Regions from separate parts of the Homo sapiens genome. Here regions 2, 3, 4, 5, 6 and 7 are each linked to region 1. Evidence: fine-mapped expression QTL. A gene starts in region 1. Each other region holds a variant in brackets. All regions are shown on one strand. Distances are from middle to middle.

What was found. PIP is the estimated chance that this variant, and not a neighbour inherited with it, causes the effect.
Region 2: its variant is fine-mapped to the expression of ADARB2 in cerebellar hemisphere (GTEx, PIP above 0.99). The same link has a PIP of 0.9 or more in atrial appendage, cerebral cortex and nucleus accumbens.
Region 3: its variant is fine-mapped to the expression of ADARB2 in lung (TOPMed, PIP above 0.99).
Region 4: its variant is fine-mapped to the expression of ADARB2 in putamen (GTEx, PIP above 0.99). The same link has a PIP of 0.9 or more in caudate, hippocampus and hypothalamus.
Region 5: its variant is fine-mapped to the expression of ADARB2 in subcutaneous fat (GTEx, PIP 0.96).
Region 6: its variant is fine-mapped to the expression of ADARB2 in whole blood (INTERVAL, PIP above 0.99).
Region 7: its variant is fine-mapped to the expression of ADARB2 in whole blood (INTERVAL, PIP 0.94).

The regions. Positions count from the first base shown.
Region 1 is chr10:1,734,914-1,739,401 of GRCh38, forward strand. ADARB2 (adenosine deaminase RNA specific B2 (inactive)) reads right to left here and starts at 2,612. Exons shown (of 10, transcript NM_018702.4): 1 at 2,138-2,612. The coding sequence starts at 2,237. RefSeq lists an enhancer at 1,944-2,540 and a silencer at 2,502-2,561.
Region 2 is chr10:1,198,075-1,202,562 of GRCh38, forward strand. ADARB2 (adenosine deaminase RNA specific B2 (inactive)) reads right to left here. Exons shown (of 10, transcript NM_018702.4): 8 at 1,892-2,073. Among named protein-coding and RNA genes, the nearest start is that of LINC00200, 41 kb to the left of the region's middle. The variant G/C (reference allele first, on the strand shown) is at 2,300.
Region 3 is chr10:1,619,843-1,624,330 of GRCh38, forward strand. The region is part of intron 1 of ADARB2 (adenosine deaminase RNA specific B2 (inactive)); the gene reads right to left. Among named protein-coding and RNA genes, the nearest start is that of ADARB2-AS1, 95 kb to the left of the region's middle. The variant C/A (reference allele first, on the strand shown) is at 1,871.
Region 4 is chr10:1,240,421-1,244,705 of GRCh38, forward strand. ADARB2 (adenosine deaminase RNA specific B2 (inactive)) reads right to left here. Exons shown (of 10, transcript NM_018702.4): 5 at 1,711-1,879. Among named protein-coding and RNA genes, the nearest start is that of LINC00200, 83 kb to the left of the region's middle. RefSeq lists enhancers at 1,190-1,701, 1,702-2,212. The variant AGGACAGGAGCT/A (reference allele first, on the strand shown) is at 2,355.
Region 5 is chr10:1,584,973-1,589,460 of GRCh38, forward strand. The region is part of intron 1 of ADARB2 (adenosine deaminase RNA specific B2 (inactive)); the gene reads right to left. Among named protein-coding and RNA genes, the nearest start is that of ADARB2-AS1, 61 kb to the left of the region's middle. The variant A/G (reference allele first, on the strand shown) is at 1,865.
Region 6 is chr10:1,275,714-1,280,201 of GRCh38, forward strand. The region is part of intron 3 of ADARB2 (adenosine deaminase RNA specific B2 (inactive)); the gene reads right to left. Among named protein-coding and RNA genes, the nearest start is that of LINC00200, 120 kb to the left of the region's middle. The variant CTTTTT/C (reference allele first, on the strand shown) is at 2,576.
Region 7 is chr10:1,265,047-1,269,534 of GRCh38, forward strand. The region is part of intron 4 of ADARB2 (adenosine deaminase RNA specific B2 (inactive)); the gene reads right to left. Among named protein-coding and RNA genes, the nearest start is that of LINC00200, 110 kb to the left of the region's middle. The variant TA/T (reference allele first, on the strand shown) is at 2,090.

The sequences.
Region 1 (4,488 bases):
CTGTAATAACTAGGTATCATAGATGAAGTAATCAATTCCCAGGAAAATGCAAATAATTATTTAATGTGTCTCTTAGCTGGTTACTTTACCTTTTAATTTGATCAGTTACATCTACATGGTTAACGTTTCCCCAAAAATTGAATCTTTAGCCGTTTGATTTGACTTTCCTATCAAGATAGCTGCCGGCAGGTGCCCTGGGAAATTCTCCCGCACGCCAGAAATCTCTTCGTAACAGAAATCAGTGTACAAAACCTGAATGCCCTTTCCCGCTTCAATTTTTGGCTATGAAAATTAAGGGACTTGACATATTCAAAATAACCAAGGTATGGAAATATTTGCTATAGGAGTTTTATTTTGAATTGCTAAAGTTAAGTTTATAGCAAATGAAGTCTTTCCCCAGATTTCCTTTTTCCCCCTAAATTGAATACTTTCTAAGCTAGCATGACTGACGCTTCCTGGCAAGGCAAGTGAATTTGGAGAAAGGCAACACTTTCCTCCTGTTTATATTTATAAAATGCATTATTGCGAACTATTACTCCACATTCTTCAACTCTAAATATTTAAATAGACTAATCAAAAAATATTGGGAAATGTGAACATTTCAAGTGTAAAGATGATGCTTCCTTTTTCCTCTTTTAAAAGTCATATTCATTATTCAATCCGGTGACTTTCTCAATATCAATGCCACTTTGTGTTGGCATTATCTTTGGAGGACACTAACAGGTCTGTTTCAAAATGATAATTTCAAACAACAAAGTGAATCGCAAGCGCACACTTAGCAGCTGAGAGGTAAATGAGAACCACAACATCACCTCCCTTCTGAAACCAAAGGCTCCAAAACCTTTTGAGGAAGTTGTGGGGGCCAATCCCTCCCAGTGGTCCTGACGTTCGGTCATAATGAATGACTGTTTGCTATTGACATTTATGCCTGCTGACTGTCTGGATAATTTCTATTATTGGAAGAGGCAATAAAGGACCTGGTGACGGTTCGAGGGCACACAGGAAACGGTCTGGTAGAAACTTATCTTAGGCCAATGCAAAGATGAAAATTCTTCAGGAAAGATGGACAACCCCAAACACACCTAACGTTGCCTCCTGCTTTCAAACAACTGGCAAAGCTGATCAATTCTAGCTGTGTTTTTCCAACCGTTCTTTATACTTCTACCTCACTTAAAAAAAATCAGCACATTTCAAATCATGATTAGAACTGAACTTTCTCCTGCAGGCTCACTAGGAACTGACAATAACACAGGTTCCTCTAGGAGAGAAGGGTCGGCATGAGAAGAATCTTTTAATTCTTCCTGGCATGCACACAGGCTACGATGGCACTGGGGGCATTGCTCTCATATTGGAGCGATTGCTAATTTTGCAAAATCCCCAGTGTGAAAGCCCTCCCTTGCTGTAGCATTGACTAACTTCAGCGCGGCCCAGCCCCAGGAATATCAGTAACAAGGCACAGCTGAGTTTGTCAGTGGCCGCTGTCAGCCGGCTGCTTTTCCTGCTTTCCTGGTTTGCGGTTTTTTTCTACCACTAACAAAATATGATGCTTCTTTCTGTTTTCCTGTATTCATTTCTGCTTATTTCTCCAAGGACGAGCCCTGTGTTCTCTTTACGACCCAATGTTTACAAATCGACGGGCACCACATTGAGTAAAAACTGCCAGCCAATTTGGAGAGGCGATCGCAGGGCTTCGCCTATCCCTTCCTCCGGGACAGTTTGGATGGGAGTAGCTGGCGCGAGGGCTCGTTCCCCCGTTTTTGGGTAATTCCTTTGGCACTGGGAGACGAGATGGCCTCCGGAGGGTGGAAGGCAGTGCCAGCCCGGCCGGCCACTGGGGACTGCGGGGCCCGGAGACGCGCGGGGTCCCCGGGGAGCTCCTCGCCGCCCTCGCCCCACTTCGTCCGGGTCCCTCAAACATGTCGCAGCGTGGCTGCTCACTGTCCCCTCTGGGCAAGAGGAGGCCCCAGACATTTCCACGGGATCTGAACTCCCGAGCGCCCTGCACGGAGCAGCCATCCCGCCAGCACCCCAAAGTGAAGCTGCTCACAACGGACAAGCCCGGAGACCCCATGAGAGGCCGGGGTGGAGAAGCCGGGGGTGAAGGGGGGCAGGGGCCGGCGCGCCACGCGGTCCTTACCTTTCCGCTTGGACCTCCGCCTCCTCCTCCTCTTGGACTTGCATTTGAGTTGACTGCTCAGCCCTCCAGACCCTCTGCCGCTCCCCAGGACCGAGGCCATGGCCGAGACCCAGGCGCGGAGCCCAGAGCCGCCTCCCTCCTGCACCTGCACCTGCCTCCTTCCCGGCAGCCGCCGCCGCCGCTGCTGCGAAGCTTGAGGTTGCAAACCCGGGAGCGGCTCACTTTTCAGGACTGAGCAGGAAAGCGCGCTCCGTCTCTCTGTCTCTCGAATTGTTCTCTATGACTTGCTCCCACTGGGCTGGGGGCCTCGGCTGGGCGCCTGGAGCGAGCTGCTCCCTGGTCAGGGAGGGCGGGGAAGGGCGCGCGGCGTCCTGAGTGCTCCGAGCTTCCCGCGGGCTCTGCCTCCTGCTCTGGGCTCCCAGCGCAGGGAGGCTACTTTTGCGCCTCTGCTAGTTGTTTGGCACCAGCCACTTTGAAGCCAATCACGCAGGGAGCTTGTCTATTTGCTGCAGCAGCGTCTAATTAGATCCAATCACAACTGCTTTCTGGCTCTGACATCAGCAGCAGCACCAGCCGCACCGCCGCCTGGCCGCTTGCAAACTCAGCTCCCGTTTGGACGGTGAAGCTCCCAGGACCGGCGGCTGGAGGGAGGCTGCTCCCGGGGAACAAGGACGCGGCGCGGGTGCGTCTGGGAGAGACCGGGGGAGCCTCCAGGAGGGACCCTGCCCGGGAGGACGAGGCCTCCTGCCGCAGCCTCGCGGACAGCTCAGCTCGCCCTGCTCAGAAAGACACAGGGACGGGTTTTTCCAACCAACAGTTTTTAACTAGTCAATTCATTACCATGCTCCTTGTGTCAAGGGGGGGAAATACCTCTTTCAGAAATGCAGAGACCGCACTTCCTCAGAAACGGACTGAGGTTTGCAATTCCCCAGGAGACAGCGTCCTGAGGGGCATTTATTCCTCAGAGCCTGCATGCTTGTCTGTTTGCCTCTTCTTTCCCCTCTTCATATTCCTTGGCCGTTTCCAATGCAAAAGATAAATCTTGCATAAAGACAGAGGTTTTGGGATCTGAGTCTGATTTTTGCCGTCAGGAATTTCATGTGTTGCTTTATTTAGGGAACAATGACACAAAAGGAAGAGAAAGCTCTCAGCGGAGAGTTTTGTTGCCAAATGTAATATTTGGATGGAAGAAAGTAACATTTACAAAGAGGTGGATTGCACACTGAAATAGTTTTAAGCAATTTTTTTTTCCAGGAATGTCCTATGTTTCAAGATTATACTTATGGAACCCTGGAAGTCTTATGTAAAATATAAAGAGGAATAGAATCTGGTAATCATCATTGCATCTTGTATTTAAATCACATAAGCTTTTAATTACAATAGTCATGTTTTTAAAAAAATCCACTCTAAAATTCATTAGCACACATTAACATGTTGATATAAAAATGGCACACAAATATTTCTGCTATTCATTGCCTCACATGCAACCTTTTCAGCTGCTTATGTGCCTAGAAATTTCCAGATAATTTTTATCATAAGAAAAAAGAATCACTCTGGGGGACATTGGAAATAATTAGGATGATCCTGTGTTGTTATGTGCTGAGCTGATAGATCGTAGCTCAGTTTTCATTGATGAGAGAGAGTAAGACATTTGATTTCAAATCTTAACTCTACTGCTATGACCTCGGGTAAGTTAAACCGTGCCTCAGTTTCCTCATCTGTAAACTGGGGATAACAACGTCACCCACCTCATAAGTTCATTCATACTCGTTGAATCAGTATCAACCAGTATAGACAGGAACTGGAACATGTTAATTACTCTATGATTATTTATTAAATTTTTTCCAGCAAATAATTTGGAAGGAATGAGCGTATGTTGCAGACAAGCCTCAGAAAGACAGGGCTTCTGCGTTTTCCTTTTAGAATGTTGAACCTTCTAGTCCAACTCAGACTGAGGACCACAATCAAACCAACATCCCTCTTCAGGGCTGGCTTCAACAACCCTGTTCCCATGACAGCACAGCTCAGCTCTGCTGATAATTCCCAGCGAGGGTTGAGAAGGCACATAGCTCTCTCACTTCCTCTCTGCAATACCCGAGATATTTGAGTGCTTAAACTATATCGAGAAACACAGCTCTAGGACTCTGCCTGTGAAACTTCTGAGCTTCACACAATGTGCTGCACTAATCCAGAGTTGCCCTATTTCTGTATCTGCAGAAAACCCATCAGGGGGTGGAGTCACCGAAGGAAGGTGCTTCAGAAGAGCTTCACACACACACACAGCCCCCACAAGGTGGTCAGCATTTATTAATGGCCCCAATAGCTCCATCATCACACGGAGCAACCGTGCT
Region 2 (4,488 bases), 540 kb before region 1:
AGACATCCTCGAAATGGGCTTCTGGTCCTGAAGTTTTGCCATAGATTTAGACTGGAAAGTGCAGAATTTTTCAAGTATATCCTTCAAGAACATTACTATGCATCCCGTGACTGTGTGAGTAAGGGTATCTTTTTCAGCTTGGTTGCTTCTTTTTAACTCAGAGCTGATTTAGCCATATCTAAATTGCTGGGCCTCATTCTGCTAATACATAATCTTCATCTTCTAAGGCAGTTCTGCAAACTGACCTTGAGGGAAGCTTCAAGCAAACTTCATTTGCTTATTTGAGGGTGCTTTTTATTATTATCCCTGTGCAAGATCTCTCTCTCTCTTTCTTTTGGTGCAAGAAATTCTGATGATTTCTTTTCAAAATTTGCATGATTGGTTTTTAAATGTCCATCAGGAACAATGCAGGGACAGCTTAGGGGTTGCATGCAGGCAAGGTACCAAGATTTAGGCTCATTTGCATCTGCAAAATAATGAAAACCAGATTCCCAATAAGCATGTAAATGGAGGCTGAAATATTTAGTCAGGCTGCACCGGCCGTGGTGTGGCAGGTGCCACCTGGGATCGGAAGCAGACAGGTGTCTCTCGGGCTTGGCTATTATCTGTGCCACTCAATGATGTCAGGTGGATCTGAATTTCTCTAATTGCGTTTTCTAAAATTCACTGTGTTCACACTTAGGATTGGACATTCCTGTTTTTATTTATGTTGACATGTTCCCAGATGGACACATGATTGAAAATCAGCACTGGGAGACTGGCTGCTGAGGGTGACATGCCAGTGCCCAGGGAGGGCAAAACCTGCTCCGTTGACGGTGGCTTGGGGAGGGCGTGGTTGCATTTGTACTCCATATTTCCTTGTGCTGCGCAAGCTTAAATAAGCCCTTCAGTAGGTGCTGGACAAAGAGCGGGGATGGCCTAAGGAAAACGCGCAGAAAAAGAGTGCAGGAGCCACTTGGCAAACAGGTGAAAATCCTCTCCTTTCTGGGGCAGAGGTTTTCTCCGTTTCCCCCACATATCTGCCTGATTCTGCCACAGGCAGGCCCTTCAGAGAGCTCTCCCACTCCAGCAAGGGAGGCTGACTCAAAGACCTGGTGTTCTGCAGGCCCAGCATGAGGCTGGCGGTGATTCGGAAACCCACCCCCCCGCTTCCCGCTGTTCCTGTGAAAGGCCAGGAGTCGCCTCCTGTCAGTGTGTCCTTCACAAAACCCTCCCAAGACCACTCCCGGGGCTTTCTAGGGCACCTCGCAGCTGCCAAGGGACTCTTCATCCTTGCAGCTGGCTGTGTGCCAGGCAGCCCGGGCAGGCCCCAGGTAACGTGGGGAAGTAGAGGCTTGGGGAGGCTCGGGTCTCTGAGGACATCTGGGCTGTGGGGAATCCTGGTGCGAAGCCGGCCCAGTACTCGCGGAGTAACCTGGCAGCCTCTGGAGGGTGTGGAGGGCCCGGGGCCCTGGGTTCCGAAGACCCGCTCTGGCCACGTGACCTTGGCGCCCCCCGCCCCTCCTCGCCCACCTGGCTCTTCCTCAGCATCGCCTCCTGTGGGCGGCCAGGTGGGCAGGTGGGCAGGTGGGCGGCCAGGTGGGCAGGTGGGGCCTCTTGGGTGAGCCCAACACTAGTGATTCTGTTTTCAGAACTCCTTCAGACACCGCTGTGAAAACAGCACCATCACACAATCACGAATTCACATCAGGACCTGGCCTATTGCTATATGCAGAGAGATGCTGAAACCTTTCATTTTTTCTTTTTAAAATCGTAGGACTTTGCCCATTAAATCCTAAATTGCCACTAGCCAACATGGATGAAGTCTGCGAGGGATGGCACCGCCGGGCACACCTGTGTCTGGCCTGGTGGTGGGAAGGAGGTGGAGGGCCCCCGGGAAGGGGGTTCTTACCGCTGAGGAGAGGCCGGTTGTGCCGGTAGGAGGCGGGCAGCTGGCCGACACCCTCCATGCGGTGGCTCATGACGCGTGCGAGGTGGCCCGTGTGGTGCAGGCTGCCCACCACGATGCTCTGCAGGTACACGGGCTCCACGAAGTGGGACAGGAGCGCGCCCTGCAGCCCCAGGACGTTCCACCTGTGGGGAGAGCCAGCAGTCAGCGGAGCCCCACCCAGGAGCCCAGGGAGCCTGGTCCTCTCTGTCCGTCTGCGGCCTGGTCCTGAGGACCTGTCAGTCTTCCCATCGTGCGGACCTTGGGGAGCTCCCTGGGAGTGCCCCAGACCCAACCCAGCCATCACTGGGGCTCTGGGGACACTGTTGCCTGGGACTGGGCTCCACAGGCCCATGTGTGCTAACAAATGCT[G/C]CTCTCTTTTCTGAAAATGAGTCGTTAGAGTGGAAACTGTTATGTTCTCTGTGGGACTTAGAATTAGATTTTTTTAAAAAGATACTCTGTCCCAAAAGTGAATCTGAATTTTTCTTTATATTAGCTGGGAAATACTATAAATGGAATTTGTTTATTTTAGTTTAGGGAAAAATACTTAGTACTCCCTTTGTCCTTAGCAGTCAAAATGACCTATTGTGTTGAAATTACATTAACAAATGACCTTGTTTTGGTCTGGGCATGATTTTGGTTTCAGAAGCCCAGATTGGAGATGAACAACAAGGCCATTTTGTTTGAAATAAATATAGCTCTGGGTGAATGTTTTTGCTTCCTCAAGCAAAAATGCCAAGAGCACTGACATTTTTTCCCCTTAAATTTGGGTGGCAAGAGGTTCCATGTGTGTGTTTTTTGAAGCAACATTCTATGGTTTCCACTCTAAATAATGTGCTTAAAATCCTACCTCCTTCAGCAGCAAGCGTTACGTAGCTAATTTCTTACATCATTGTTCTTTTCATTAATTAACATTTCTCCACTGTTAGAGCAATTACTGCCATCCCCGCATGCAGCGTCTCTTTTCATGATTAATAAGGAGTCATTACATTTCCCTTCCCGAAGCAGTCAATTAACACAGGATTCTTTCCATTAATTACCGAATCTACCTGGAGAGTAATCTTCTCCGAGAACCCGTGATACCAATTGCTTTAAAAAGTTCTCTTTAAATTTTATTCCAAAAACACAAGCAATTTAGCCAGCGATATTAATTTGCCTCAGAAGCATCTCCATGAATGAGAAACATCTTTTAATCTCATGCAAGAAAAGGCAGCCATCTGGCTGGTGGGGGTTTCGGGGAGCCGCTCTCCCTCTCTCCCTCTGCAAATGCAGGTCATTAAAGTAATGTGCTCATCTACATAAAACTCAAATGGAATATAAAAGGTAATATTTATATACAAACAATTTAGTCCTACAATTTAAACAGTCATTGATTTTATGAAACATTTACTTCAGTCTATCAGATTTGCATAACTTCATTTAAAAAAATATTGTGGTCATTTCTACAAGTCACGGTGCTTCTCCCAGAAAGCAAGGGAAGGGCTGGCCACTGGATGTGCGAGCTTCTACCAGAGGGGTGAGGTCGGGCGCTCTGAAGGGTAGGATGAGATGGAGGCCACAGAGCGCCTGTCACCGAGGACCTTCATTCCACAGAGTGTCTGCCTGGATCTCGGATGGTCGTAAGCCACAGAGCACCTGTCACTGAGGACCTTCATTCCACAGCATGTCTGCCTGGATGTCGGATGGTCGGAGGACACACAGCGCCTGTCACCGAGGACCTTCATTCCACAGCGTGTCTGCCTGGATCTCGGATGGTGGGAGGACACACAGCGCCTGTCACTGAGGACCTTCATTCCACAGCGTGTCTGCCTGGATCTCGGATGGTGGGAGGACACACAGCGCCTGTCACTGAGGACCCTTCATTCCACAGCGTGTCTGCCTGGATCTCGGATGGTGGGAGGACACACAGCGCCTGTCACCGAGGACCTTCATTCCACAGATTCCACAGTGTGTCTCCCTGGATCTTGGATGGTGGCTCTTCAGAGTCAATCTTTTCCTTGATGTTCACCGATAAGTCAGAGAATGGCAACAAATCCTGGGAAAGGAGATTTTTTGTAACTGAGCTTTTCCTTCAGGGAACAATGGGAAGTGTTTTCTGTTTGTTTGTTTTGTTTTTTTTTCAATAGAGACATGGTTTTGCCATATTGCCCAGGTTGGTCTTGAACTCCTGGGCTCAAGCGATCCTCCCACCTCAGCCTCCTTAAGTGCTGGGATTACAAGTGTGAGCCACTGCACCTGGTCTTTGTGTGTGTGTGTGTTTTTTTTAGACAGGGTCTCACTCTGTCACCCAGGCTGGAGTATGGTGGTGCAAGTGGTGCAGCCATAGCTCACCGCAGCCTAATTATTTTGTATTTTTTCATAGAGGCAGAGTCTTCCTATGTTGCCCAGGCTGGTCTCGAACTCCTGGGCTCAAGCCATCCACTGAACTTGGCCTCCCACCGTGCTGGAACCACAGGTGTGAGTCACCGTGTCCGGCCAAGGCTGACATTTTTGAGGAGCGGTTGAGGGATTTGGCTTCTTCCCTTGACTCTGAGACCAGAGGACAGACCAAAGGCTGGGAG
Region 3 (4,488 bases), 120 kb before region 1:
ATAATGATGTTTTTGACCACAATGAAAGTAAATCAGAATTGAACAACAGAAAGAAATCTGGAAAATCTGCAAATATTTAGAAATTAAACAATATACTTCTAAATAACCCATGGATCAATAAAGGAAAAACAAGAAAAATAAGAAAAAAATTTAACTGCACTAAAACAAAATTATATTAAAATTTATGGGGTGCAACTAAGACAGTAGAGGGAAATTTATAGCTTTAAACACCTATATCAGAAAGAAAGGAAGATCTCAAATCAATATTCTAAGCTTCCATGTGAATATAGTAGAAAAATAAGAGCAAACTAAAATCAAAGTAAGACATAATAAAGATTAGAGCAAAAATCCATGAAATAGAAAACCAAAAAAATCAACAAATTGACATATTTAGATTGACCGACCAGTAATAAAAGACAGAAGACACAAATTATGAAAATTAGAAATGAAAGAAGAAACATTATCACCAATCTACAAAAATTAAAGGGGTCATAAGCACATGTTATGGGCAACTTTATGGCCCAAATGAGGCAACTTAGATGAGATGGGGGAAATTACTGGAAATGCGCAGATTTCCAAAAATGACTAAAGAGGAAATAAAAAAACTACAAAAATAACAATTAAGAAAATTAAACTAACAATTAGAGATCCCTTTACACAAGAAAAGGCCCAGGCCCAAATGGTGTCACTGGTGAATTTGTTAAATAAAGAAAAAATACTAACAATCTTTTACAAACTGTTCTAGAAAATGCAGAAGGGGAGACGACTCTCCATTCATTCAGTTGTTCTAATATTATATTGATAGCAAGCACAAAAATATCACAAAAAGTATAGCCCAAGATTTCTTATGAATATGGATGTGAAACTATTAACACAACATCACCTAACTGAATCAAGCACCATATGAAAAGGGTGTATGTAAAGACCAAGTTAGATTTACGCCTACAGTGAAAAGTTGGCCTAAAATGTAAAAATCACCTAGTGTAATATACTATATTAATCAAATAAAGATCAGACACCTGATTATCACAATACATGCAGAAAAAAGTATTGGAAAAATCCAGTACTCATTCATGACAAACTCCCTTAACAACTCTGAGTACAATGGAACTTCTGCAAGCTATAAAAGGGCATATATGAATCACTCATGCCCAGCTCCATCCTTAGTCATGAGTGGCTGAGTGCTTTCCTGTAGATCAGGGACAAGGGAAGGATGTCTACTTTCACACTTGAATTCAACAGTATACTGCTGGTCCTTGCAAGTATGAGAACAAAACAAACAAAATAAACAAACATGCCAATCATTCAAGGCATCCAGCATAGGAAATATTAAAATGTATTCATTTGTAGATGACATGAACATCTATGTAGAAAATCTGATAGAATCAACAAAAAATATATTAGAACTAGTAGGTATTTTAGCAAGATTGCAGGACATATGATTAGTATAAACATATCAATCGTCTTTTTATATATTACTAACAATCTGAAAAGAAAAACAAGAACATTGTTACATTTACAAGAGCCTCAAAAATAAATAACTAGGAATAGTTTCTTCTTTTTCTTTTTCTTTCTTTCTTTTTTTTTTTTTGAGACAGGGTCTCACTCTGCCACTTGGGCTGGAGAGCAGTGGCATGATCACAGCTCACTGCAGCCTCGGCCTCCCAGGCTCGAGTGGTTCTCCTGCCTCAGCCTCTGGAATTGCTGGGACAGCAGGCACATGCCACCACATCCAGCTAGTTTTTGTATTACTTGTAGAGATGAGTTTTCACTGTGTTAGGAACACACTTAACAGCAACAACAACAACAGTGAAATGCAAGACTTGTGTACTGAAAACTACAAAACATTACTGAAAGAAATCAAAGGAGA[C/A]CTAAGTAAATAGGGAGAAATTCCATGTTTCTGGATTTAAAGACTCAGTAATGTCAAGATGTCAAGATAACAATTCATCCCAAATTATCCATGGATTCAATGCAATCTCTGCCAAATCTCAAATCCCAGGATTTTTTTTGTAGAGAATGTCAAGCTCCTCTTAAAATATGTATGAAAATAAAATGCAAAGGATCTAATAGTAAAAAACAATTTTGCAAAAAAATAAAGAAAGAAAAAGGTTGGAAAACTTATACTAGCTGATTTCAAAATTTACTACCAAGGTAAGGTAATCTAGATAAATTGAACAGAGTTGAGGGTTCATGAATTAATGCTTACATCCATGGGCAACTAATTCCTCCAAAGGTACTAAGAAATTTCAATGGGGAAAGGATACTCTTTTCAAGAAATGGTTCTGGTTCTACTGTATACTCACATTCAAAGAAATGAATATACACCATTACCTTACACTATACACAAAACGCACAATGAACCACAGACCTAAAGACCCTAGCTAAAATTTTAAAACTCCTAGAAGAAAACAGGAAAAAATCTTTATTAGCTTGAATTTGGCAAATAATTCTTAGACACAACATAAAAGGCACAATTCATTAAGGAAATATCAAAAAGTTGGACTTCATCAACTTTTAAAACTTTGAGCTTCAAAACACATCTTTAATGAAAAAATAAATCTTATACAGGTTGAAAATATTTGCAAGTTATATATCTGATAAAGAACTTTTATCTAGAATATATATATAAAGAATCCTACAACTCAGTAATGACAAGAATCCAGTAAAAAGGAGTAAAATTTTGAACAGTCATGCCACTAAAGAGGACATGTAGAAAACAAAAACTTAAAAAGATGTATACCGTCATTAGTAATTAGGGAAATGTAAATGAAACCACAATGAGATACAGCTATATACCCTCTAGAATAGCTCTAATTAAAAAGACAGAAAATACCAAGTGTTGGATGAACTATGAAAAGAGGCGATTCCTCATGCGTGGCTGCTCAGCATTTAGAATGCAACAGCTACTTTGGAAAATTGTTTGTTTGTTTCTTAAATAGCTAAACATATACCCGCCATATAACAGAGTACTTCAGCACCTAGGCACCCACCTCGGAGGAATGAAAACACGTCCACGCAAAGGCATGTCAGGGAATGCTCACGTGGCTTCATTCATAACAAGCAAGAGCTGATGACACCACAAACGTCCATCAACAGAGAGGGGGAGAAACAACAGGAACTCTATCCAAACCTTAGAATAGCATTCCGTAGGCCAAAGGTGCAAACTACGGACACGCGCCCCAACACAGATGAGCCTCAAAAACATTGTGCTGAGCAGGAGTTGGAAGGAAGACGTGACGTATGGCATGATTCTATTTATACAAAATCTCCAAAAGAGGAAAATATTTAGAGATGGGGCATCCATTAGTGGTTGCCCAGGGCTGGGGGTGGGATTGGATTGTTGCAAAAACATCATTAAATAAATGAAAAAATAAGCTTCCTTCTGCACACACATCCATGAAGCCCACATTCTCAAGAGGACGTGAGGCGCATCCCAGGTGGTCATGCAGCTCAACACTGTAGATGTGTGAAAATGATTGAATTGTGCACGGGCAAAGTCTATTGAATGGAAGCATGTCAGTAATGCTGCAACAAATACATGAACTGCAAACTACAGTAGTTTCTACTGTATAGCTAGAATGGCACTTACTTGATTACACTTGAGTAAGAATATAAACTGTTGTTTTGGGAAAATTTTTGTTAGAAAACTAGATTTCACACAGCCCATAGAATTTTTGTCACTACCCATAGAATTCCATTGTCAGCGCCTACACCCGCCTCTGGCCGCCTTCCCAGGCATGGTCCACCGTGAGCCGTAACTGCTTTGAACTCCTTGTCTGTCCCGTTGTACCGTCATCACCTTCTCTGTCATCAGTGCGATTGCACACGCATGGATTCCCTGCCTTATTGAAGACATTGGAGACCTCCCTCCCGCCTACAGGACCAGGGGCCTTCACCCTCAGGAATGCCCAGTACGAGGGCTGAGTTTGCAGTCAAATAGTTAATGTTCATAGAGCTTATTAGAGACCCACAGCATTTAATCCTCAAACAGCCCCTTCAGTAGGCACTATTATTATCATCATTTGTTCATGGGGCCACTGAGGCACAGCAAGATGAAATGATTTGGCCAAGGTAGCTCAGCTGGTGAAAGAGATTCAGGGTAAGAATCAAGGCTGGTGCAGTGACTCACACGTATGATCTAGCGATTTGGGAGGCTGAGGCGGATCGATCACTTAAGCCCAAGAGTTTGAGACCAGCCTGGGCAACATGGCAAAACCCCATCTCTACTAAAAACATGAAAAATTAGCCTGGCATGGTGGCACGCACCTGTGGTCCCAGCTATTTGGGAGGCTGAGGTGGGGGTATCACCTGAGCCCAGGAGGCTGAGACCCCAGTGGGCTTTGAAGGCATCACTCCACTCCTGCCTGGGTGACAGAGTGAAATCCTGTCTCGGAAAAAACAAAACAAAACAAAACAAAAACAAACAAAAACCAAAGAAAAAAAGAAAGAGAATAAGAATCCAGACTGCCTCCATTTTAAACCACTAAA
Region 4 (4,285 bases), 490 kb before region 1:
CCATGGGTGATGGATTGTGTTCTGTGGGGCCCTGAGATCACACAGGCAACAGAACAGACATTTTCTCCACAGGAAGTCCTTGCGGCATCCAGCAGTCTTCCTGCCTCTGTGCCTGCACTCTGCCCACAGCCACCATCCCCCACTGCCCCGGCTGCCTCCCCCAGGACCCTTGGCAAATGTATCCCAAGCCTGGGCCCCGGCACAGGGCCTGTCAGCCACGTGGCTGCCCTGGACTCCCCCTCCCCTGTGCTGGTTCCCCATGCAGGGCAGGCGTCGGGTGCACCTGTCTGTGGACCCCCCCAGCTGGTGGCACAGCACCAAGCATGTAACCAGCTCCTGGTAAATATTGGTCCAGTTGCCTTCTCTGACACAAACAAGAGTGAGGGATCTTGGTGATAGTCCCAGTTGAGCAGGTGGACATTTAGGAGAAATCCTTCCCTACATTCTGAGATATTTCTGTTCCCCCATATCCAACTCCTGCTGCACCCCGCAGGCCTCAGGGAACTGAGGGATGGGTTCAACCTGTGGCTCCCTGCTCAGAGGCTCAGATAAGAATGAGCTGAGTGTGGGCTGAGCACAGTGGCTCATGCCTGTAATCTCAGCACTTTGGGAGGCCGAGATAGGGTGACCACTTGAGGTTAGGAGTTTGACAACGTGATGAAACCCCGTCTCTACTAAAAATACAAAAATTAGCCAGGCGTGGTGGTGAACGCCTGTAGACCCAGCTACTCAGGAGGTTGAGGTGGGAGAATTGCTTCAACCCGGGAGGCAGAGGTTGCAGTGGGCCAAGATAATGCCATTGCACTCCAGCCTGGGCGACAGAGCAAGACTCCATCTCAAAAAAAAAGAATGAGCTGAGTGTGTTAAGGTGTTGTTTTCAGCAGCGTCTGCTTAGGGCTACACGTGGGCCTTTCTCCTTTTGTGTGGCTTTTGCACAGCTAATGGGCATGGAGATGACCCTTGCCAAAGCCCCCCAAGGTCCCATTACTCGTAGATTTGAGGAACGCAGATGGCTTCAAGGGATGTGAAAGAGTAGACAGCAGACACAGGAGGGAGCGTTTCAGGAGAGGAGCCCACAGTGAGCCCTTGGGACTGAATGGCCCAGCCTGGGGGTGTGTCGCGGAGGCCACGTGCTGCAAACCACCTGGGTTTTGCTCCTCTCTAAAGTGTCTCAGGGACAGGAGGCTGCCCCATGACAGCCACCAATGCCTGATGGCCAGAGCAGGCCAGGGAACCCTGGGAATCCCAATACTGGGGCACAGTTCTCAAGGCCTCAGCGGCCTCTTCACATGTACTTGGCACAGGAGGCAAGAAGACAGCGCGTCTCCAAGCCACCCCTTGGGCACTGCACTCACGTTCTCTGAGGGCAACGGCGGAAAAGGGGGCAGTGCAGGAATGTGGGGGGCATGGGGAACCGAGGCCAGGAGAGGGTGGCCTTGCCCGGAAGGACGAGGGCTGCAAAGGTGTTTTCTGGAGGGAAACGTGGAGTAAGGAGGAAGCCTGGAATTTTAGCATCTTCCCAGCGCACACGGCGGCTTTATTGGTGTGCCAGGGATGTCTCTAGTCTGAATAAAAAGGGATGCTTTCTGGCTCACCCTGTGCCAGGATAGAGGGAAGCGTGTTCTGAGCCAGGCATGGGGCCCCATCTGCTCCCTGGCAGCCCCCAGCCGCGGCGTCCGCCTTCCCTGGAGCCCGTCCCCAGCCGCTCACCTCAGGTGCAGCTCCAGCTGCGTGTAGAGGAAGTGCAGGAACGCCCGCCGGGCCACGACCTCCGCGTGGCAGTCATTCACCACCAGCCCCTGGTCACTGAGGTGCTCGCCGCTGATGCACTTGGTCCCCGAGGACAGGGCCACGACCTGCGCCTGCCGAGCATCCAGGCCTGGGGACACAGATAGCATCAGAGCAGCGTGGCCCACGGCCCCCGTCTCCCTCCTCCTCGGTCTTTTCAGGGTCTCACAACAGCGGTTTCCCTGGGTTAGGAAACCTTGGAAACACTGCGTTTTGAGAGCTGGGAAGCGAGGCTTCTGTGTGCTCCAGGCTGTCACGGGTGACCGCCCGCCTGAGGGATTCCCATCTACTTCATGGTGGCCTGAGACAGCGCTCAGAGTGCCTCTGCTATCCTTAAGGTTGCTGAAATGCTCCTTAGGCACCATAGGAGCAGAGTTTTGAGGTCAAACTTACTACCAGGACAGTTTTCTCCACCTGAGTCCCAGGTCCCCTGTGAGTGGGAGCAGTGCTAGCTGCGGCCTGGGCTTCCTGCCCAACCTCTAACCACCTTTGTGCTTTCTCCTGTCCTCCAACGGGATCAGGGCAGGACAGGAGCTGATGAACCCTTCACCCTAACACAGAAACAC[AGGACAGGAGCT/A]GATGAACCTGTCATACTAACACAGAAAGGAGGCTGGATGTGTCATTTTAACCATAGTCAAAGGAACCCCATCCACAAAAATGATACTCTCTTCAGGGACTGAAAACAAACAACAAAGAAACCTCAAAAACAACCCCCAACGTAATGTCCTTAAAGTATAATATTCATCACTTTGTTTAAGGAGGAGAAGCTGGAAGACACAAGCCAATGTTTGCTGTGCTCTAACAGGTCTGTGTGGATGTGTATTTTCTCTGCACTTAGATGGTGAATTCCTTGAGGACACGAGTCAGAATTTCCACCAAATACTCCAAGCAAGGGCTCCCTAGGGAGTCCGTGTCATTAGACGGGTCAGTGTTGCCGATCCAATAACAAATCCATCATCCAGGCCCTTCGGCTGGAGGTGGCAGGAATGTTGCGGGTGCCCAGGAGCCTTGGGATGTGACAGCCACTGGCTGGGCCCGGATCGCAGGCCAAGGGAGGGCAGCACGGAGACGCGTTAGCCGCTGACCGCGGCCACGTCCACAGAGTTACCTGTAAATACACGTCCGGACCATTTCTTGGAAGAGGTGACACACAAATTAATGTCACGCCAGAAGCAGGCCTCCCTCCCATCTTAAATAAAATCGACTAATTAATGTCACGCCAGAAGCAGGCTTCCCTCCCATCTTAAATAAAAACAGTGCTGGCTGGTCATGAGCGCTTCTCGCTTCTCACACACTTGTTCCTCTGATGTGACTTTTTCTCCCCTGAGAACTTAGTTCTTGAGCCCTGAGGGCATCTGCCCTCTCTGGGCCTCACCGTGGGATCTTTCTTCGTGAGATAAAAGGGTGGTGTCAGCAGCTACCAGTGACAGCCAGGGAGAATTCGGGGCCGGGAGGGACCGAGCACTGGGGAAGTAACCTGCAGAGGCCCAGCAGCATCCTTGCCCCCATGGCTCTGCAGCTGGGGTCTGTCTGTCCAGCCTCCTTCCTTCCAGGCAAAGCGGTCTAGCACAGCCCCCGCCTCCTGCCCATGTCCACTGCTCTCTCCGCTCATCCCAGCTTCTCCCAGCAGCCCCCGTTTCTGTGCCCGAAGAGAACTCCATGGTCCTGGTCCTGTTGTCTACCCACTGCCCCCTCCCTGGTGGGACGGGACTGCTCCTGAGCTCAGGAAGTGACCAGACTTCCCCACGCCGCTTTAATCAGAACAGGACACGACCAGCCGCCCTGAGGTTCCTCCCCCAGGAAAGCTCGTGAGCAGCTGCCGGGTTCCAGGTCCAGGCCTCCTCCTCTCTCAGCCATCCTGGGTGCGGGGGCTGCCCCCTAGCGGGGGTCCCAGAAGTTGACGAGCAGATGGGACCAGGATCTAAGGCTACAGGGAGCTGGGGTGGGCAGCTGCTACTGACTCTGCCAGGGGTGGGAGCCACCATCTCACTCAGGCCGTCAGTGACATGTGGACTGTTGAGAAATGGTTCACAAGGATGACATCGTGATGCAGAAACCACCCCTCAGGTTCCAGCTTCGTTAAAGCTGGTATTTAGAGAAATGGGAAACACATTGATAACGATTCCTAACCAGTTTCAGTGTTCACGACCGGTGCGCATGCAGTCTCTGGTGGAAACGGACAGCTCTTCAGGAATAGGTGCTGTGGCCTGTGAGGCCCCGGCCTGCTCCTTCTCTTTGGATTCCGTGGAAATTGGAGCTGTAGAAAAAAGCAACTGCTTTCCCTTTACCCCTCATTGATTCCCAGCTCCGTTTGGCTCCAGACTCTGCCACACTCAGCACAATTACGTGGCCCAAGAAGTGTTTGCATATTCAGTTTTCATGATTCTCACCCCCACCGCCAGCACCACGTTCCCAACACAGGAGACGCGAAGCCTGGACCGAGGGAGATGACGCGGTCAGAAACGGCTGCAGCATGAGATGTCGTATGAGAAATGTC
Region 5 (4,488 bases), 150 kb before region 1:
ACATGGGATTTGGGACAGAAAAATCACCCTGTATGGTGCTGTATACTGTAATGGTGGATACATGCCATTGTACATTTGTCTACACCCACAGAATGTACAATACATTCTGCTATGGTGAACCCTAATGTAAACTGTGAACTCTGGGTGGGTGGTGGTGATTGTCAATGTAGGTTCATCGACTACAACAAAAACCCCCTTTGATGGGCAGTGCGGACAGTGGGGGAGGCTGCGACTATACTGGGGACAGGGGCATGGGGTAACTCTGTACTCACCACTCAATTATGCTGTGAACCCCATGAAAGGAAAATAAATCTCAGGATCCCCAAATCGCTAAGCCAAAGGGAAAAGTCGAGTTGGGAACTGCATCGGACAAACCTGTTTTCCATTTGGTTCCTAAATAAGATCGCTACAAAGATAAAAAAAAGCTACATGCTTCCCTCGTGATTTGCCCACAAGGAAATTCCCTGTGGACAAAGGACAGACAGAATTCAAAGTCATCCCCCTGTGCACCTGAGACAAACATATATCTAATTGCTTCCTCTGCCCTATTGCTTATGTAACAATGCAGAGTCACTGAGCCAGACCAAGGCTTACGTGATGATTCCTGCTCTACCCTCCTCTCACATGGGAATTGTGTATTCGGTGAAAAGCTACCTATGACCTGGAAGCCCCTGCTGACCTCAAGTTGTCCTACCTTTCTAGACCAACTGATGTACATTTTACGCAGACTGATATTGATTGATGTCTCAGGTCTCCCTGAAATCTATAAAACCAAACTGTGTCTGGGTGCGGTGTCTCACACCTGTAATCTCAGCACTTTGGGAGGCCAAGGTGGGCAGATCACGAGGTCAGGAGATCGAGACCATCCTGGCTAACACGGTGAAACCCCGTCTCTACTAAAAATACAAAAAACTGGCTGGGTGGGGTGGCGGGCGGCTGTAGTCCCAGCTACTTGGGAGGCTGAGGCAGGAGAATGGTGTGAACCTGGGAGGCGGAGCTTGCAGTGAGCCAAGATAGCGCCACTGCACTCCAGCCTGGGTGACAGAGCGAGACTCCATCTCAAACAAACAAACGAACAAAAAACAAAAAACACCCCAAAACCAAACTGTGACCTGACCACCTTGGGCACACGTCATCAGGACCTACTGAGGCTGTGTCATGGGTGCATCCTTAACCTTGGCAAAATAAATTTTCTAAATTGATTGAGACCTGTCTCAGGTATTTTCTGTTCACAACCCCCAAATTATTAAAGTCTATTAACAACAAACAGCCACAAAAAGTCCAACCCAGTTCTTCTGACCCCAGTCTTTGGCTTTCTACTCCTGCAGCAACTACAAGAATTATGAGGCAGCAAAGGGTATTGGCTGAAGGACCCCGAGTGCTTGATCTGAAAGCCACCAAATCCAGAAGATGAGGCACCTGAGAGCAGCTGGCGGGATGGTCGGGAATGGCTCAGCCCACATTTTCAGATGCATTTGACTTCACTTCCGGAATAGAGTGAAGCCTTTCTTGTGGGAAGATCAATGCAGGCTGGCATTTCAACATGGTGCCAAGGTCAGGATCTCACTTTCCTAAGTGATTACCTGCATCTCTGCCCCGAGGGGATCTGCTCACCTTACTCAATCAGGTGATGGTTAGATCTTTCTCAACACCTTTTTCTTTCAAGTAAATCTCAAGTTGCTTTGCCCAGAAAACAAGGAAAACCGACTCCTTCCTACACAGAGAATAGATTCCTGGATTCTCTGCGATTATTTAATGTCAGTGGAAAAACATTCTCATTACTGTAGCTGGGAAGAAAAAAATGTGTTGCACAAGTGTGATTTCTATTCAGGACGTAGTGTGGGTTTGTGAGTAGCATAAAGAA[A/G]TATATAAAACGCCTCCTTTATTAACTCGTTAAAATATGAAACAATAAACAGAAATGAAATACAATGTAATGAAATCAATATATAAGTTAGGGTTGTTTTTAATTATAACTTAAATTAACCAGGGTATCTCCATTGTGCAAGAATTTATTTCCAAAACTAAAATGAAGTCTATAAACGTGCACTCAATTACACCGGGGAATTGCAAATTTTCTGTCTTCTGGCATTCAAAAGATTTTTGTTTCATTAATGGCTAAAATGATTATAACCGCTTGTATACTCATTTCCTTTACCAAAGGTGCTTATCTCCTTTCCTGAGTACACATAGTTTGAGAGTAAAATTAATTTGTCCCTAAAGAATTATTTTGACCTCAAAAACAAAACAACAAAACAAAACAAAAAGAACAATGATTTCTGACATGAAGGCTCCAGAGATGTAAGTCGGGTTCTGGGCGTCCGGGGGCCCTTTAGAGACCCTCAGGGGTTCCTCCAGCAAAGGGGAACGGCTGAGGTTCCAGTCCTCATCCAGACAGAAGAACTCAGCTTTGTTTTAAATATAGGACTTTCTTGCTTCCCTTGAAAAATGAAAAAATGTTTGAAAATCACTCCTTCAGCAGGGTGTATGATCATGGTGTAGGTTCGGTTTCAGACAGAAGAAGGTGGTTCTGTGTGAATATGGTTATGCATTTGGTCTATTTGTTGTTTTGATTTTTTTTTTCATAAGCACTTACAAAGCAATATAGGTAAGTGTGGGGAGATAGCGTGGGTTCCCGTGAGAAATAATACTGATCTCTTTCTTGTGCCTCAGCTGAACAATTTGAAACCAAGCATTTTATTTTTTTCTGTGCTAAACAATTGATATGGTTTGTTGTGTTCCCACCCAAATCTCATCTTGAATTGTAGCTCCCATAATTCCCACGTGTTGTGGGAGCGACCTGGTGGGAGGTAATTGAATCATGGGGGCGGTTCCCCCTGTACTATTCTCACGGTAGTGAGCCTTATGAGATCTAATGATTTTATAAGGGGTTTCCCCTTTCTCTTGGCTCTCATTCTCTCTTGACTGCCGCCATGTAAGATGTGCCTTTCATCCTCTGCCATGATTGTGAGGCCTCCCTAGTCTCATGGAACTGTGAGTCCATTAAGTGTCTTTTTCTTTATAAATTACCCAGTCTCGGTTGCGTCTTTATCAACAGCTGAAAGCGGACTAATGCAACAATACTATGACAAGGGGAAAATGACTTGGCTCCAGTAAATCTTTGTTTGACCCAATCACAGGCTACACACTGAGGCCACCCTGGCTCAAGGCTCACTTCAAGACCCACCTTGCAGGACAAGCAGTTCTAAGCTCACAGGTCACACCCTCTCCCCAATCCCTCCAGTTGCTGCCCTGAAACACTCACCTTAAAGCTGCCCAGCCCAGGCCTGAAACCCTGAACGTATCTTCCTCTATTCCCATTTTGAGATACCCCGGATGCTATGTCAAGGTGGTTTTTTATCTGCAGCGGGTCCAACAAGCCTGGATTTGGTGATCAACAAAGCCCTTCCTTGGGTTTTTGGAGCATGAGCAACCAATATAAGGAACTTGATAGGCCAAATGATGGGAATTTAATGTGCAGATTGTCTTAAACAGATTCCCCCTTGGTAGACAGAGCTAGGTAGGCCAGACGGTGCTGCTGTTGGGAGGATTTGCTGGTGAACAATCAAACGCAGAAAGATGGCACCAAGAGTCACCCTTCTGCGGCTGGAACATCGCCTGGATGAAGGCAGAGAAAACCTTTCTATGCCTGATACCGAGCTCGGAATTTTGGCCTAAGGAGGAGAAAGTGGGTTCGACAGCCAGAAGTCAGGGAACAAAGGCAGGAAGACAGCCCGACCCTGGATGGACGCCAGCCCCTGCCTTGGGGTTCACACTCAATTCTGGAGGCAATGGGGTGTGGGATCTGCTTTGACACAAATTCATGAGAAAAAGATGTGGAGAGCTTCGCAGATGACAAGATCGATACAGATCAAGACAGAGCTCCTGACAGAGGCAGCATGGCCTCCGATGCTTGGAGGAGTCGGCTTGAGGCCTGGCTGGCTTTGTTCTGATCAGGCCTATCCAGCCCAGAACCACAGCACAGCACCCTCATCCACATTTTAAAAAGCTCCCAAATCTAAAACCCTGTGGCTGGGAGACGTAACCTGAAGCGACCTAAGGCTCTTTGTCTTCTTGTGTACCCCTCTTCCTCTGAATATTCCTGTGTTCTCATGCACAAGTTACTGGCATGGCTCCATCAGTCCACTGGTTATTATTTATGTGCACCGAATTCCTTCCTTTCACATCGGAAAGACCCTGGTTCTGAATTCTGCCACATTTGTGGCGAACAGATGGTGGGCATTTTTAGGACTGATACTTTCATATGGGAACCTACCCACCTTCAGCCTGACCGCCAGCCTCCAGGGGAGAACGTATGGTGGAAAGGTGCGGACCCTGCCACGGTCAGGGCATCCATGGTCGGGGCATCCACGATCAGGGCATCCATGGTAGGGTGTCCACTGTTGGGGCATCCATGGTCAAGGCATCCACGGAGGGGCGTCTGCGGTCAGGGCATCCATGGTCGGGGTGTCCATGGTCGGGGTGTCCATG
Region 6 (4,488 bases), 460 kb before region 1:
TTCTCATTGTTCAGTTCCCACCTATGAGTGAGAACATGCAGTGTTTGGTCTTTTGACTTTGCAATAGTTTGCTGAGAATGATGGTTTCCAGCTTCAACCATGTCCCTACAAAGGACACGAACTCATCATTTTTTATGGCTGCATAGTATTCCATGGTGTATATGTGCCACATTTTCTTAATCCAGTCTATCATTGTTGGACATTTGGCTTGGTTCCAAGTCTTCGCTATTGTGAATAGTGCCGCAATAAACATACGTGTGCATGTGTCTTTATAGCAGCATGATTTATAATCCTTTGGGTATATACCTGGTAATGGGATGGCTAGGTCAAATGGTATTTCTAGTTCTAGATCCCTGAGGAATCGCCACACTGACTTCCACAATGGTTGAACTAGTTTACAGTCCCACCAACAGTGTAAAAGTGTTCCTATTTCTCCACATCCTCTCCAGCACCTGTTGTTTCCTGACTTTTTAATGATCACCATTCTAACTGGTGTGAGATGGTGTCTCATTGTGGCTTTGATTTGCATTTCTCTGATAGCCAGTGATGATGAGCATTTTTTCATGTGTCTTTTGGCTGCATAAATGTCTTCTTTTGAGAAGTGTCTGTTCATATCCTTCGCCCACTTTTTGATGGGGCTGTTTGTTTTTTTTCTTGTAGATTTGTTTGAGTTCATTGTAGATTCTGGATATTAGTCCTTTGTCAGATGAGTAGATTGCAAAAATTTTCTTCCATTTTGTAGTTTGCCTGTTCACTCTGATGGTAGTTTCTTTTGCTGTGCAGAAGCTCTTTAGTTTAATTAGATCCCATTTGTCAATTTTGGCTTTCGTTGCTTTAGACATGAAGTCCTTGCCCATATTCACCCAATACAGGAGCACCCAGATTCATAAAGCAAGTCCTTAGAGACCTACGAAAAGACTTAGACTCCCAAACAATAATAACGGGAGACTTTAACACCCCACTGTCAACATTAGACAGATCAACGAGACATAAAGTTAACAAGGATATCCAGGAATTGAACTCAGCTCTGCACCAAGCAGACCTAATAGACATCTACAGAACTCTCCACCCCAAATCAAGAGAATATACATTCTTCTCAGCACCACACCGCACTTATTCCAAAATTGACCACTTAGTTGGAAGTAAAGCACTCCTCAGCAAATGTAAAAGAACAGAAGTTATAACAAACTGTCTTTCAGACCACAGTGCAATCAAACTGGAACTCAGGATTAAGAAACTCACTCAAAACTGCTCAACTACATGGAAACTGAACAACCTGCTCCTGAATGACTACTGGGTACATAATGAAATGAAGGCAGAAATAAAGATGTTCTTTGAAACCAAGGAGAACAAAGACACAACATACCAGAATCTCTGGGACACATTCAAAGCAGTGTGTAGAGGGAAATTTATAGCACTAAATGCCCACAAGAGAAAGCAGGAAAGATCTGAAATTGACACCCTAACATCACAATGAAAAGAACTAGAGACACAAGAGCAAACACATTCAAAAGCTAGCAGAAGGCAAGAAATAACTAAGATCAGAGCAGAACTGAAGGAAATAGAGACACAAAAAACCCTTCAAAAAATTAATGAATCCTGGAGCTGGTTTTTTGAAAGGATCAACAAAATTGATAGACCGCTAGCAAGACTAATAAAGAAGAAAGAGAAGAATCAAATAGATGCAATAAAAAATGATAAAGGGGATATCACCACCAGTCCCACAGAAATACAAACTACCATTAGAGAATACTATAAACACCTCTACGCAAATAAACTAGAAAATCTAGAAGAAATGGATAAATTCCTCGACACATACACCCTCCCAAGACTAAACCAGGAAGAAGTGGAATCTCTGAATAGACCAAAAACAGGCTCTGAAATTGAGGCAATAATTAATAGCTTACCAACCAAAAAAAGTCCAGAACCAGATGGATTCACAGCCGAATTCTACCAGAGGTAGAAGGAGGAGCTGGTACCATTCCTTCTGAAACTATTCCAATCAATAGAAAAAGAGGGACTCCTCCCTAACTCATTTTATGAGGCCAGCATCATCCTGATACCAAAGCCTGGCAGAGACACAACAAAAAAAGAGAATTTTAGACCAATATCCCTGATGAACATTGATGCAGAAATCCTCAATAAAATACTGGCAAACCGAATCCACCAGCACATCAAGAAGCTTATCCACCGTGATCAAGTGGGCTTCTTTCTTTCTGCTTCCTTCCTTCCTTCCTTCCCCTCTTTCTCTCTCTCTTTCTTTTTTTCCTTTTTGAGACAGAGTCTAGTTCTGTCACCCAGGCTGGACCTCAGTGGCATGATCTCGGCTCACTGCAACCTCCGCCTCCCAGGTTCAAGCAATTCTAGTGCCTCAGCCTCCCAAGTAGCTGGGACTACAGGCGCGCGCCACTATGCCTGGCTAATTTTAGTTTATTTTGTACTTTTTAGTAGAGATGGAGTTTTGCCATGTTGGTCAGGTTGGTCTAGCACTCCTGACCTCAGGTGATCCTCCCGCCTTGGCCTCCCAAAAGTGCTGGGATTACAGGTGTGAGCCACCACACCCGGTCCTTTTTTT[CTTTTT/C]TTTTTTTTAAGTTTCAACTTATATTTTGGGTTCAGTGGGTACATGTGCAGGTTTGAGTGATGCTGAAGTTTGGTGTACAAGTGACCCAGGTAGTGAGCACAGTACTTGGTAGTTAGTTTCTCAACCCCCTCCCTCCCCACCAGTATTCCCCAGTGTCTGCTCTTCCCATCTTGATGTCTGTGAGTACTCTTATGTTTATCTTCCACTCATAAGTGAGAACATGTGGTATTTGGCTTTTTCTGTTAATTCGTTTAGGATGACGGCCTCCAGCTGCATCCATGTAGCTGCAAAGAACATGATTTCATTCTTTTTTTTTTTTTATGGCATAGCCTGTTTCTCAATCCATTATGTCCTGCCCTGCCTCAGTCTCTAAAACTCCTTCCTAGGCCCGAAAGGTTTCCTATTCCCCTGTTTGGAGGTCCTCTCCCTCATCTGCAATCCACTGCCTTTAGAACTCCAGCAACATTCATGTAGGGGTCGACTCATGTTTTTTCCTGCATGATTACCTAGCAGTTCATGTTTTATGGTGTGACTCCTATGCAGTGCTGCATCTGTGGCTGGGAGCATGGCTTGGATGCGTTTTGCATTTTCGTGGTCCTGCCATAGCACCATGAGTGATCATGGCTGTCATCAACCTCTCGAATGAATGACTGCGTGTATGGATAAGTGAAACTCTCAAGGATGAATTATCTAAAAAGTAAAATTTCAGAAAAAAGTTGGTTATTTTTCCCACCAGTTATTATCAGCATTTTTTTCCCCAACCTTTTCACACTGTCTTCATCTGCTGGGGCTGCCGTAAAAGAATACCATAGACTAGGCAGCTTAAGCAACGGAAATTAACGTTCTTAATGGTTCTGAAAGCTGAAGCCCAAGATGATGGTGTCGGCCAGGTCAGTTTCTTTCTGAGGCCTTTTCTCTTGGCGCGTGGGTGCTGCCATCTTGTCATGTGCTACATGAACTCTCCTTTGTGTATGCATGAAGACAGAGCAGGACCAGACTCCATGGCATCATTTGTTTGTTTGTTTGTCTGTTTGATTTTGAGACATAGTCTCCCTCTGTTGCTCAGGCTGGAGCGCAGTGGCGTGATCATAGCTCACTGCAGCCTCAACTTCCAGGGCCCAAGTCATCCTCTTAGCTCAGCCTGCCAAGTAGTTGGGACCGCAGACACAGGGTGCCATACCTGGCTAATTTTTCAGTATTTTGTAGAGGCAGGGTCTCAATGTGTTGCTCAGGCTGGTCTCAAACTCCTGGGCTCAAGCAGTCCTCCTGCCTTGGCCTCCCAAAGTGCTGGGATTACAGGTGTGAGTCACCGTTCCTGGCCTGTGGGGTCATCTTTAATAAGGACACTAATCCACTGGATAAGCTGCCTCAACTCCATGACCTCATTTTGCCGTAAGTACTTCCTTAGGGTTTTGGACTTGCTTGGGCCCTGCCATCCTTTCCTTGTTGCCTCTTTCTCTCTCTTGGAAAGGGACGTCTACTCCATGCTTGGCTCACTGTTATATTTTGGGAACATGGAACTTGTTTGGGTTCCGTGGTTCACGGCTGGAGGGGAGAGCTCAGCTTCAGGGTGGGCAAATTGCACCCCGAGTCCCACCCATTCCTGATTCAGGTGAAGTTTTGTTGAGGCTCAGGACTTCACACCTTAGTGCTGATGCTGGAATGAGCTAAGACTTCTGGGGCTGTTGGGATGGGATGAGTGCATTTGCCATGCAAGAAGGATGTGAATTTGGGGGAGGTCAGGGACAGGATGTTCTCAACTGAATGTCTGTGGCAGCATCACCTTGTTGGCTCAGAGTGAGTGAGCTCACTCTCCGGTGTCACCTCTTACAAGAACACTAATCCCATCAGATCAGGACCCCACTCTCATGGCCTCACTTAACCTGAACTACTTCCTTAGAGGCCCC
Region 7 (4,488 bases), 470 kb before region 1:
ACCACCGGGCCTTGATGCCTGCTTCCAAAAGGAACCTGGAACTGGGAAGGATAAAGGACCATCAGCTCTACATTTCAGCTCTGCCCCGCCCTCAGGGCATCAGGAAAGCCACTTGGCCTCTTCATCTTCGTGTCTGCATTTCCTGAAGTGTTAATAAGAATTCCTGCCTTCCCCACTTATCGGGGTTATGTCAATCAAACTGATTAGTGTATGTAAAAATGCTGTCAAAATTATAAATCTGCATATTAAATGCAAGGCATCACCATCAACAGCCCCTTTAAGAATCATTCGCTCATGAAACACAAGAGTTTCTAAATAAAGCGGTGCCCTGACAGTTTGGCTAGTAAGTATTGTAGGGGTTCAAGAGGATGGGGGAGAACATTTGCTTCTCTTTTTCCAGTGAAACGAGAGGATTCGGGAGGGAACAACGCTGAACTACTGTGTGATGGAGAGAAGGGGTGAGTGGGACCCATGCCCTCCCAGAAGACGCCCTGAGCGGGGGCCCAGGCTCTCCCGGAAGACGGCCTGAGTCAGGTCCACGCTCTCCCGGAAGACGGCCTGAGAGGGGGGCCCAGGCTCTCCCGGAAGACGGCCTGAGCCAGGTCCACGCTCTCCCGGAAGACGGCCTGAGAGGGGGGCCCAGGCTCTCCCGGAAGACGGCCTGAGCCAGGTCCACGCTCCCCCGGAAGACGGCCTGAGAGGGGGGCCCAGGCTCTCCCGGAAGACGGCCTGAGCCAGGTCCACGCTCCCCCGGAAGACGGCCTGAGAGGGGGGCCCAGGGTCCCCCGGAAGACGGCCTGAGCCAGGTCCACGCTCCCCCGGAAGACGGCCTGAGAGGGGGGCCCAGGGTCCCCCGGAAGACGGCCTGAGCCAGGTCCACGCTCCCCCGGAAGACGGCCTGAGAGGGGGGCCCAGACTCTCCCGGAAGACGGCCTGAGTCAGGTCCACGCTCCCCCGGAAGACGGCCTGAGAGGGGGGCCCAGGGTCCCCCGGAAGACGGCCTGAGCCAGGTCCACGCTCCCCCGGAAGACGGCCTGAGAGGGGGCCCAGGCTCTCCCGGAAGACGGCCTGAGCCAGGTCCACGCTCTCCCGGAAGACACGGTCCACGCCCTCTGAGAAGATGGCGTGTGGGTCGGCGCCGAGAAGGAGTGGTGAGAATGAGAACAAAGCTTCCCAGTGGAAGAGAGAGCAGCTGTCTTCGAGGTCAGGCCTGGGAGGGCCCAGCCTCGTGCCTGTAGGTCCGGTGCAACAGCGCATGTGCTCCTGGCATAGGGCTCACTGGATTATTTTAAGTAAATGGCTGTGGTAGTTGGCCAAGCATCCTGCTCTCTGGGGAGAATGCCTGAGGGTGGAAGCATTTGTTCAGCATGAAAGATGGAGTCCCACCCTACAGGGAGGAAAGGACCGCCTGAGAAGGGTCCAGGGCCGGCTGGGACCCCACCTCATTGGCGCTGTGGTGGGGGGTGGGGGGGGGGCCGTGCCCACAAATCCTAAGGAGACCTGAGCTGATGGAAATGGGCCCTGGGCCGCCTTCCCATCTGGGCGGGAGCCTGTGGGAGAAGGACCAGCCGGCCACCACCGCAGAAGACACCAGGCCAACGCCTACAATACCAGTCTAACGTCTCGTTCACAAGTGTGTGTATTCAGACGAGAGCCATCAGCAGGACACGGGAGAAAGACCACGCGAAACAGAAAGCCACTGCCCCTGGCCTGGAGGACACGGGCCAGGGCGTCTCCTCAGAGGAGTTGAGCAGAAGTTACAGCTACAGAACAAGAGGCTCCCTTGAAAAAGGAAGAATGGAGGATAAGGGAAAGATTTAAATAATGAAAATAGGTTGCAAAAATTAGGAGGGAAAGGCAGTTTATGAGCTGTAGGATAAATTTAAGAAATCTCCAAAAACATCGAGTAAAAGAATGAAGAGACAAATTTTAAAAGTAAAAGCAGAAAATTAATAGAGTGTTGCAAATTTAACAAAAATGCGTGTAAATGAAGGAATTCATAAAACAAATGACATAAAACTATACAAATAGCTTAAATATGTCAAGAGAAGTGAATGGCTCACACCTAAACATATTCTTAAATCCAAGT[TA/T]AAAAAAAAAAAAAAACCTTTCCCCCTCCCGGGTAGGTGTGGGTGCTGGTCACTGCAGAGAAAATGTGAGGCAGGTCAGAAATATTGGATAAAAGATAATGGAAACATTACTTCAAAATACTGAGGGAAAATAATTGAAAGCTTAGAATTCCCCCCTGGGAATCTATTGAGACGGATGACAAGCAAATCAAGGAATTTTGAGATGTGGGAATATTCACAAAGTTGATCTCCCATCGTTTTAGATGATGCTTCTTGAGGAAGCTCTCTATGAGGGGAGACAAAGCAAGGAGGAAGACAATGATTCCGGAGATGGTGTCCCACTGGAAGAGCAGGACGCCGGGTCTGCAGAGCACGTGCCTCGATGGGCCTGGCCTGGGAGTTCTCTGGGAGAGAGGCAGGTACCCTCTGTGAGATGCTTCCATAGAAGCCTCGTGACTTAGCACGTATGGTAAAGGCACAATCTTCCTCTTTCTTTTTTTTCAATAAGAGAAAAAAGAAGACATTCCAGAAAAAAACACGCACAATATTTCAAAAGCGATATAAGCAAGTCTAGCAACACAAGTGAATCAAACTTAAACACAACACAACTTGGAGCTGGGGGTGGAGGCGGAGCCTCTGCGTGTCCTGACGCCAGGCAGCCAGGCTCCCTTCCCAGCGGAACTGTGCTGGGAGGGTTGAAGGTGGTTCTGCTTGGCTCTGTAGTGGGAATATCTGCAACACTCTCATCAGATAGATGCTGTTCAGCTGTTACAATCACTCAAAAGACAAAGTAGAGAAGACTTAATTATGGGCATAAGAAAGGATATAAATACCAGTGATGATGGTGTAAAGATGTAACACGTATAATTGAGAGAGGCTGGCTAGTGGGGAAGGGGCTGAGGGCTGCCACCCTCAACGCACAGAACAGGGAGTGAAACCACACCCAAATTTGATGCAATAAGAAATAAAGGTTTATCTATAATTGCACATTACAAACATAATAATGGAAAATGAAAAAAGTATCAAATGTTAATAGCATGAGTCAATAGATGTTATCTAGAACTGAAAATCTAGAAATATAGAAGTATGTAGTACTTAGAATCACAAGAAAAAAATTTGAAATGGTTAGAGGTGGCTTCTGAGAGTGAAGGGGAGTGAGGGGTGGAGTGGGAGAATACGGCTTTTCATTCAGAAGTTCTTTAGAATCTTTACCATATGACTGCATTAATTTGATAAAAATAAAAACTTCTGTTCATAAGTATATATTTCTGTGATTATATTTCTCATAATGGCTAAGAAATGGTCTCTGATTCATAAACAGAACTTTCAGGAGCTAATAAATGTGAATGAGTTGGCATCCCATCCACAGGAGGGGCAAATCAAATTGTGTTTTATTTCAAAATAAGTTTAATTTTAAAACATTGTGACATATACAGCAACTAGAACAAGACATATTACTCTGAGAATTTCTTAGGTATTTGCTTGAATAACTGAACTAGAATTAAGATCAAATGGCACATCAACTTTAAGTAAATGAGTATCTAAAAATGTTTGTATTAGTAATTTTGCACATTTCTAATTTTTTAAAATCAGTGTTTGTCTCTTTACAATAGGAAAGTAAATTTAAGCAAGTTATTCTTCAGCATTCAGAAGTCACTAATTAGTGAAGCTCTACCTTATGAAGTCTCATTTTCATGTAGTAAATTTAATTCATATAGATAAATTGCCTACACATAAAGCATTGTATTCACTGGCAACTTAGAAGTATCATTTCCCCACAAGCCTCTAAAACATTACTATTTTCCACATGAAGTTTGACAGTAGCTTCCAAAACTTGCCAGATTTGTTTCCCAGAAAGATGGAAAGATATTGAGTTCCAGCGCTGAGAAATGCTACAAACTTACTTTCCAGGTCATACTGACTTATGCCTCTGGGGCTGGAAGTGCATTGCACAATAAGGAAGCCAGGGTGGCTGGTGCCCCTCCCCTCCCCTTTCTACTCCCTCCCCCTACCCTTCCTCCTTTCCTTTTCATACCAAGACACTAATTTAACCTGAGTTATTCAGAAATCTGTAGCAGAAATCTGTGTAACACTCCACATTTTAAAATTTACCAAAGTTTTGTTTATATGGACCAGCAACCCTGTGTGTATGTAATTCTTTTATAGTTCTTTTATATTGGATTTAAATTGTTCTGTATGAACCATTCCCCACTAGAATATAAGAGCCACAAGGGTAGGCATTTGGTCTCTTGTTCTGCTGATTCCCCAGAACTTTGTATGCCAGGCACTGACTAAATAATTTGTAAATAGTGCCATTACCAATAATTAACTAACACTTACATGGTACTTGCCATGGGCTAGGTAACTTTCTAAGAGCTGGAAATACATGAACACATTTAGCCTTCAAAATAACCTGATC